2 separate regions of the Homo sapiens genome follow, and region 2 is reported to be linked to region 1. Evidence: microRNA targets listed by miRTarBase, many of them from high-throughput screens and not tested one by one. Region 1 holds a microRNA gene; the other region holds the end of a gene's coding sequence.

What was found. The annotated mature microRNA hsa-miR-4641 reads UGCCCAUGCCAUACUUUUGCCUCA and lies in region 1 at 787-810, opposite strand. An mRNA with a match to its seed (bases 2 to 7 or 8) in the 3' UTR can be bound and repressed. Matches are read on the target gene's strand: a 7mer-m8 pairs with bases 2 to 8, a 7mer-A1 pairs with bases 2 to 7 and ends in A, and an 8mer does both.
Region 2: miRTarBase lists CDCA8 as a target of hsa-miR-4641. Seed matches in the 3' UTR shown: 7mer-A1 at 590-596.

Annotation. Positions count from the first base shown.
Region 1 is chr6:41,596,181-41,599,573 of GRCh38, reverse strand. MIR4641 (microRNA 4641) reads right to left here and starts at 851; the gene lies at 786-851. FOXP4 (forkhead box P4) reads right to left here. Exons shown (of 17, transcript NM_001012426.2): 15 at 2,332-2,398; 16 at 1,624-1,793; 17 at 1-785. The coding sequence ends at 638. RefSeq lists enhancers at 166-749, 750-1,334.
Region 2 is chr1:37,707,807-37,711,199 of GRCh38, forward strand. CDCA8 (cell division cycle associated 8) reads left to right here. Exons shown (of 10, transcript NM_001256875.2): 10 at 516-1,913. The coding sequence ends at 560. Among named protein-coding and RNA genes, the nearest start is that of CDCA8, 17 kb to the left of the region's middle.

The DNA of each region.
Region 1 (3,393 bases):
GGGTCTGGAGCCAGGTGGGCCTGCTCACACGGACCCCCACAGGGCACACAGACAGTCCCACCCCAGCAGCAGAGGGGGCTGTTTCTTCTGGGGATGGAGGCACAGTTCCTCCACCCAGGCCAGGGCAGGGTGGGAGCTGGGGTGGAGAGTTCTTTCTTCACAGTACGGAAAAGAAGGCGGAAGGGAGCACGAGTTAGGAAAGTGGGGGCCTCTGGCCAGAAAACACGGCCAGAGCCAGGTGCCAGGGGGCCCTGGGTTTGAGGGGTGGCTAAGCCCCGCCTGCGGGTCTCCATGATGCTGAGGGGCCCTGTGGGGAGAGCTGGTGGGGGAGGAGGGCCCTGCTGCTGCTGGTGGTTGGGGGGAGGCAGTTTCAGATGTGGGGAGGGTCTGAGGAGGGGTCTGAACCCTCCGTGTCCTCTACTGGTCCAAGACCAGGGGTTGTGTCCCTGGGGGTGGGGACCGTCCCTGCCCCTACGTGTTTTTGTCAGGTCACACTGGGAGCTGCTGGCCCGGGCCTCCCCGGTCTGAGTCCTGGACTTGCCTTGAGGCTCGGGAGGGGCTGTGGAGTTGGGGGAGATGGGGCCTGGATTCTGGAAGGGAGGGGTCTCACCCCAGCCCTGCCGGTCACTACAGGCCCTTAGGACAGTTCTTCTCCCGGCAGCTCCTCCTCCAGGTCCCTGTCTTCCGGAGGCCCCGAGGCGCTGGGGTTAGGGGCGCCCAGGGGAGGCCCGGGCTGCCTGTCTTCCTCTGCCTCTGCTGGCTCCTCCTTCACCTGCACCTGGTGGCTGAGGCAAAAGTATGGCATGGGCACCAGGCGGCTGTCCTCTGATGCCCTCTGCCCCCTGCCCCCCAAACTCACCCAGAACTCTGGGGCACAGTGGGGTGCCCACAGCCCCCTCCCCAGGATCCCATCAGACCTGAGGGCTGATCTCCCCTAGGGCTCTCTTCAAAGAAAAGCTGGTCCTGGGGCAGAGACTGCTCTGGGTTGGGGAGGAGAGAAGAGGGGAGCAGAGGGGAGATGAGCGAACGGAGGAAGGAGAAGAAAGATAGAAGAGAGGCCAGGCGAGGTGGCTCACACATGTAATCCCAGCATTTTGGGAGGGCGAGGCCAGTGGATCACCTGAAATCAGGAGGTCGAGACCAGCCTGGCCAGCACGGTGAAACCCCATTCTCTACTAAATACAAAATAATTAGCTGGGCATGGTGGCAGGCACCTATAATTCCAGCTACTTGGGAGGCTGAGGCAGGAGAATCACTTGAACCCAGGAGGCAGAGGTTGCAGTGAGCCAAGATCTTGCCATTACACTCCAGCCTGGGTGACAGAGCGAGACTCCGTCTTAAAAAAAAAAAAAAAAAAGAGAAGAGAGGAGGAGGAAAAATAAGAAAGGGGGAAAATGGGGAGGAGAAGGTGGGAAGGTGGGGAGGTGGGGAGAGGGGATAAGAACAGGCAGGTGGGACAAGGGAGGGCTGAGAGGGCTGAGGGAAGGAAGAGAGAAGCCACTTGTCCTGGGGAGAGGCGTGGTGGGGGTGGGATGGGGAACCCCACCCAGGGTGGGGGATGACGCCTCCTCCCTGGTGGTTGAGGGGTGCTGGGGTGGGTGGGGGTCCGTGCTGTGTGCTCACCTGTACTGGGGCGGGGAGAGGCGAGGAGGGCTGCTGCTGCCGTTGCTGGGCAGCGGCTCCACGGGGGCACCCACGTCATCGTGGCTGAGGGGCAGCAGGCTGCTGGCGGAGCCAGGGTTCAGCATGCCAGGGCTGTTGAGGAGGGGGAAGCTGCTCTCGGCCAGGGCGGCCTGCAGGGGCACAGGGTTGGGCCTCGTCAGTGGCTCCACAGGATGGGGCACACTCAGTCAAGTGCTGTGCCTTCCCCGCCCACTAGAGAGCTGCCTGTGTGTCTGCCTACTGGCCCCACGGGCGGATCTGTCTGGGCAACCCCCAAGCCCCAACTCAGCCTTTGAATGTAGCACCCCTCCCCCATGGCTGGAACTCTGACCCCCCGACCTCCTACCTCCTAGCTTTCCTGGAACCTGGGCCTGGCTTATCCCCTCTCCCAGGGAACAGAGAACCCCCAGACTGACAAACCAGGAAAGGGGATGCTATAGGTATGCCATCCTCCCAGCTGCCTGCCTTGTCTGAACCCAGCCTTGAAAGCAGAGGTGGAGGCTGGCCCCGAGTTGGGGTGGGGCAGAGAGGTGGGGTCTCGGAGAGTTTGGGTCTTCACCCTCCTTCCCTCCTCTGGTGAGTCCTCTGCAGGGGAGGATGGGGGTCTCTTGTATGAGAAAGCAAGGGGGCGGGAGGTAGAGGTGAGTGGGTGGGCTCTGGGCAGGTCACCTGGTAGCTGGCATTAAGTGCTCCATAGCTGAGGCCAGAGATCATGTTCTTCACCAGGGTGGGGCTCCTGGAGGACAGAGAAGGCCATCTTTGGCTCACTCATTCACTTAGCTCTTCATTCGCATCTCTTTACTCTCACTAAGTAACGGCCTGTGCTGGGAATGGGTCCCATTCCCTATTCCGGGAGGCCAGGGCGGATCAGCCGCTGTCTTGGAGCTGTGTGTGTACTTGGTCTGATTCGGTCTTCACGCTCAACTGGCCCTGCAGGAGCAGCCCCTTCACAGGTGGGTGCGATGGGCTTGGTTCAGGGACCTGTCCAGGTCTCGGAGCTGGGAAGTGGGAACTGGCATCCCCCCAGTGTCTGCCTTCACAGCATGCTGCCCCCCCACCCGTTTTCTCTCCGGTCTAGATTTTCCAATGTTTGGCAAGGTCTAATCTATAGTCTCAGTAGTTACACACCTGGTCTGCCCACACTGTCTTGCCATCCTAGATTTTGGGACATGTCAGACATATGCTCAGCCTGTCCCACATGGAGGCTTCTGTATGGAAGCCTCCATACAGAAGGCTTCTCTGCACGGGAAGGTGTTCGGGAGTTGGGACAGGAAAAGCAGTGGCTGGGGGCTGTCCCTCTTCCAGTGATGACACCATCACAGAGCTCTCACAGAGCTTAAGGAAACAGCCAAAGGTCACCAAACTGGTGAGAAGCAGAGGTGCAAGCGCAGCCAGGCCTGGAGACTGGCCCCTAGGCATTCACCAGGGGATGGCTTCCCTCCATTCTCCAGGCTGCACACTGCCTGGGGTGCAAAGGCTCCTGCCTGGTAAGCAGGCATCTTTGAGGGGAGCAGACACCCCACACCTCAGAGACATCCATCTAACTTGCTCTCCTCTCCTTACCCAGGGGCTCTGGCCCAAGGGGCACAGCAAGCAGGTGGCTGGGGTGGGGCTGTTTGAGGTCGGGAGAAGGCCACTGCTGCTACGTGGAAGCCAAAGGGAGGTCCTGACCCTGTCCCAGGCTCCTCAGTTTCTGTTTAAACTGCCAGGTGGAGGCTAGGTGCGGTAGCT
Region 2 (3,393 bases), not on the chromosome of region 1:
AAAGACCTCAGCTCTAAAAATAAAGTAAATTATCAATTTAATTTAACTGAAGAATGTAATGGCTCCGCCAGGGATGAACCTCCTTGGTCTGGTCAGCCATCATCTTGGGTGGTGGATGAAGCACTTAGTGTAAACATGGCAACCTTACCCTCATCCTTCTGTGGGGTCTGAAGGGTACATCCAAGGAAGGGGACAAGGCGGGGCTGGTTTCCTAAACCTGTCTTTCTGAACATAGGCCCAGTGCTGAGATCCCACACACACCTAGCCACCCAAATCTTGTGACTGTCATCCTCTAGCTAGATCTATTGCAATGTTCTTCTCAAATCTATGATACCTTTACTGTCTCACTTGAGTTGTTATTTTACTCCCTTGTTCAGATGAGAAACAGGTTCAGAAAGGTGAATTCATGTGTGATACAGATAGAGAATGGAGGGGCTCAGGCTGACTGTGGGAGGCCAAGGGGCAAGCCTGCCAAGTGACATCTTCTACAATGACCTCTCTCCTTTTCTTTTTAGAACCGTCTCGCCCAAATCTGCAGCAGCATACGGACCCACAAATGAGACACCAAAGTTGACAGGATGGACTTTTAATGGGCACTTCTGGGACCCTGAAGAGACTTCTTCCCTTCAGGCTTATTGTTTGAGTGTGAAGTTCCAGAGCAAGGAGCCATGTTCCTCTAAGGGAATTCAGGAATTCAGACGTGCTAGTCCCACACCAGTTAGGTAGAGCTGTCTGTTCACCCTCCCATCCCAGCTGATCCCAGTCACTGCTTGCTGGGGCCATGCCATGGAAGCTTCCCATCAGTCTCCCAGCTGAATCCTCCCTGCTCTCTGAGCTGCTGCCTTTTGCCTCCTGCAACTCAACATCCTCTTCACCCTGCCCTGCCTGCAGTTGAGGGGGCGAAGAAGAACCCTGTGTTCTCAGGAAGACTGCCTCCACCACCGCTACCCAGAGAACCTCTGCATCTGGCATTTCTGCTCTCTATGCTTGAGACCGGGAGGTTTAGGCTCAGATAAGTGAGCTCTGGGCCATGAGAGGGTAGGTCCAGAAGGTGGGGGGAACTGTACAGATCAGCAGAGCAGGACAGTTGGCAGCAGTGACCTCAGTAGGGAACATGTCCGTCTACCCTCTCGCACTCATGACACCTCCCCCTACCAGCCCTCCTCTTCCTCCTCCTCCTCCTCCTGTGGGAGGTGGTCAGTGGGACTTAGGGATCTTTCACCTGCTGTGCCCAGTAGTTCTGAAGTCTGCTTGTGGAGCAGTGTTTTATGTTTATCCCTGTTTACTGAAGACCAAATACTGGTTTGGAGACAACTTCCATGTCTTGCTCTTCTACCTCCCTAGTTAGTGGAAATTTGGATAAGGGAACTGTAGGGCCCAGATTCTGGAGGTTTTATGTCATTGGCCACAGAATAACTGTCTCTAAGCTATCCATGGTCCAGTGGTCCCTGCCAAGTCTGTAGACTTCAGAGAGCACTTCTCTCTTATGGGGTTCATGGGAACAGGGGTGGGTGTGACTTGCTTGGTGGCCTCATTCCATGTGTGCCTGTGCCTGGGGCATGGACTTTGTTAAGCAGAGTCAGCAGTGAGGTCCTCATTCTCCAGCCAGCCTCTCTGCCCTGGAGAATCATGTGCTATGTTCTAAGAATTTGAGAACTAGAGTCCTCATCCCCAGGCTTGAAGGCACATGGCTTTCTCATGTAGGGCTCTCTGTGGTATTTGTTATTATTTTGCAACAAGACCATTTTAGTAAAACAGTCCTGTTCAAGTTGTATTCTTTTAAGTTCTTTTATTCTCCTTTCCCTGAGATTTTTGTATATATTGTTCTGAGTAATGGTATCTTTGAGCTGATTGTTCTAATCAGAGCTGGTACCTACTTTCAATAAATTCTGGTTTTGTGTTTTCTTTTGTAATCACTGTTCATCCTGCCTGTCCTCTCCAAGCTGTGCTCTGTGGACTAGGGAGACAGCAATTGTGTGGGAGTCTTTGCACATCTGCTTTTCTCAGATGTGAAAACCTTTGCTTTGGGCAGATTCATTCTGATATCTGAAAGAGGGGCTTACTACAAGATCCAGAGCATCGGTACCTTCAACCCCCAGCAGAGCGCCCCCAACACCTTCATTCCATGAGCTAGAAATTTGTGTCTGGGAGGACAACACCTAGGGTCTCTGTAATTTCCCAGTATAGTAGACTTTTCTTGGCCAGGAACAAAGCGGGGCAAGAGTAATTCGGTGATCATGAGTCTCACTTCCCAAAGTTTCTGAGGCCCTGGCAGATCTGCCTTCCCGGAACTCTCTAGGCTGAAAATGATCAACCTAGAGCTAATGATGCAAGAGGGTTCTGCCTAAAAGAAGACAACCTGGGGGCATACTTAGCCAGGTTATTGGGTATTGACAATTTATAGACTAGGAATCTTCTGGTAGTGACAGCATTTGGAAGAATGGTTACTCAGTGCAAATAAGCAACCCAGACTATATGTCATCAGGCCTAAAGAGCCTGACACCAAGGAAACACTTAGGATCCAACCTGCTTTACCCAGAACCAGGTTCATCCTGTTTCATTCCATCTGCACCACTGCCTAAATCACCTAGTAGGAAATGCATGTTATGTAGCAGGTGCCTAATTAACACCTGGGACTGAGACATGGCAGTTCTTCATTTCATATAAGGGGCTGGCTTGGAAAGTAAAGAGTTCCCCATCCCAGGATTGATTGATTGATTGATTTTTTGAGACAGAGTTTCGCTCTTATTGCCCAGGCTAGAGTGCAGTGGTGAGATCTCGGCTCACTGCAACCTCCACCTCAGGTTCAAGCAATTCTCCTGCCTCAACCTCCCAAGTAGCTGGGATTACAGGTGCACACCACCACGCCTGGCTAAGTTTTGTACTTTTAGTGGAGACAGGGTTTCGCCATGTTGGCCAGGCTGGTCTCCTGACCTCAGGTGATCCACCCACCTCCACCTCCCAAAGTGCTGGGATTACAGGTATGAGCCACTGTGCCCGGCCCCATTCCAGGATTTTTAAAAAAAATTTTGTTTTTTATCATTTGGTATTTTTGTTGATTTATTTTGTAGAACTTATGTCCCCACCATCCCAGGATTTTTAAGTACAGGCTGAACTATGTCACAGGGCTGGGACAAAGACAACCTAAATCTTACTGCCAGCCCCCAGACATACTTTCATACTCGTTGGGTTGGGTTTGGGTTTTTTTTTTTCCCCAAATTAGTTGCTAACCATTTAAATATCGGGCGATTACACAAAGATTGCTAGCCTCTGAAAATAAGATCAGACAGCACGGGCCAACAGTCAGCTGGAGCTCAGTAGCAGCTTTCCTTGGCCCGCAGAGAATCCTCTACCGGTTCAAAGCAATCCTGATGAGATTACTTCTTCCCTTGA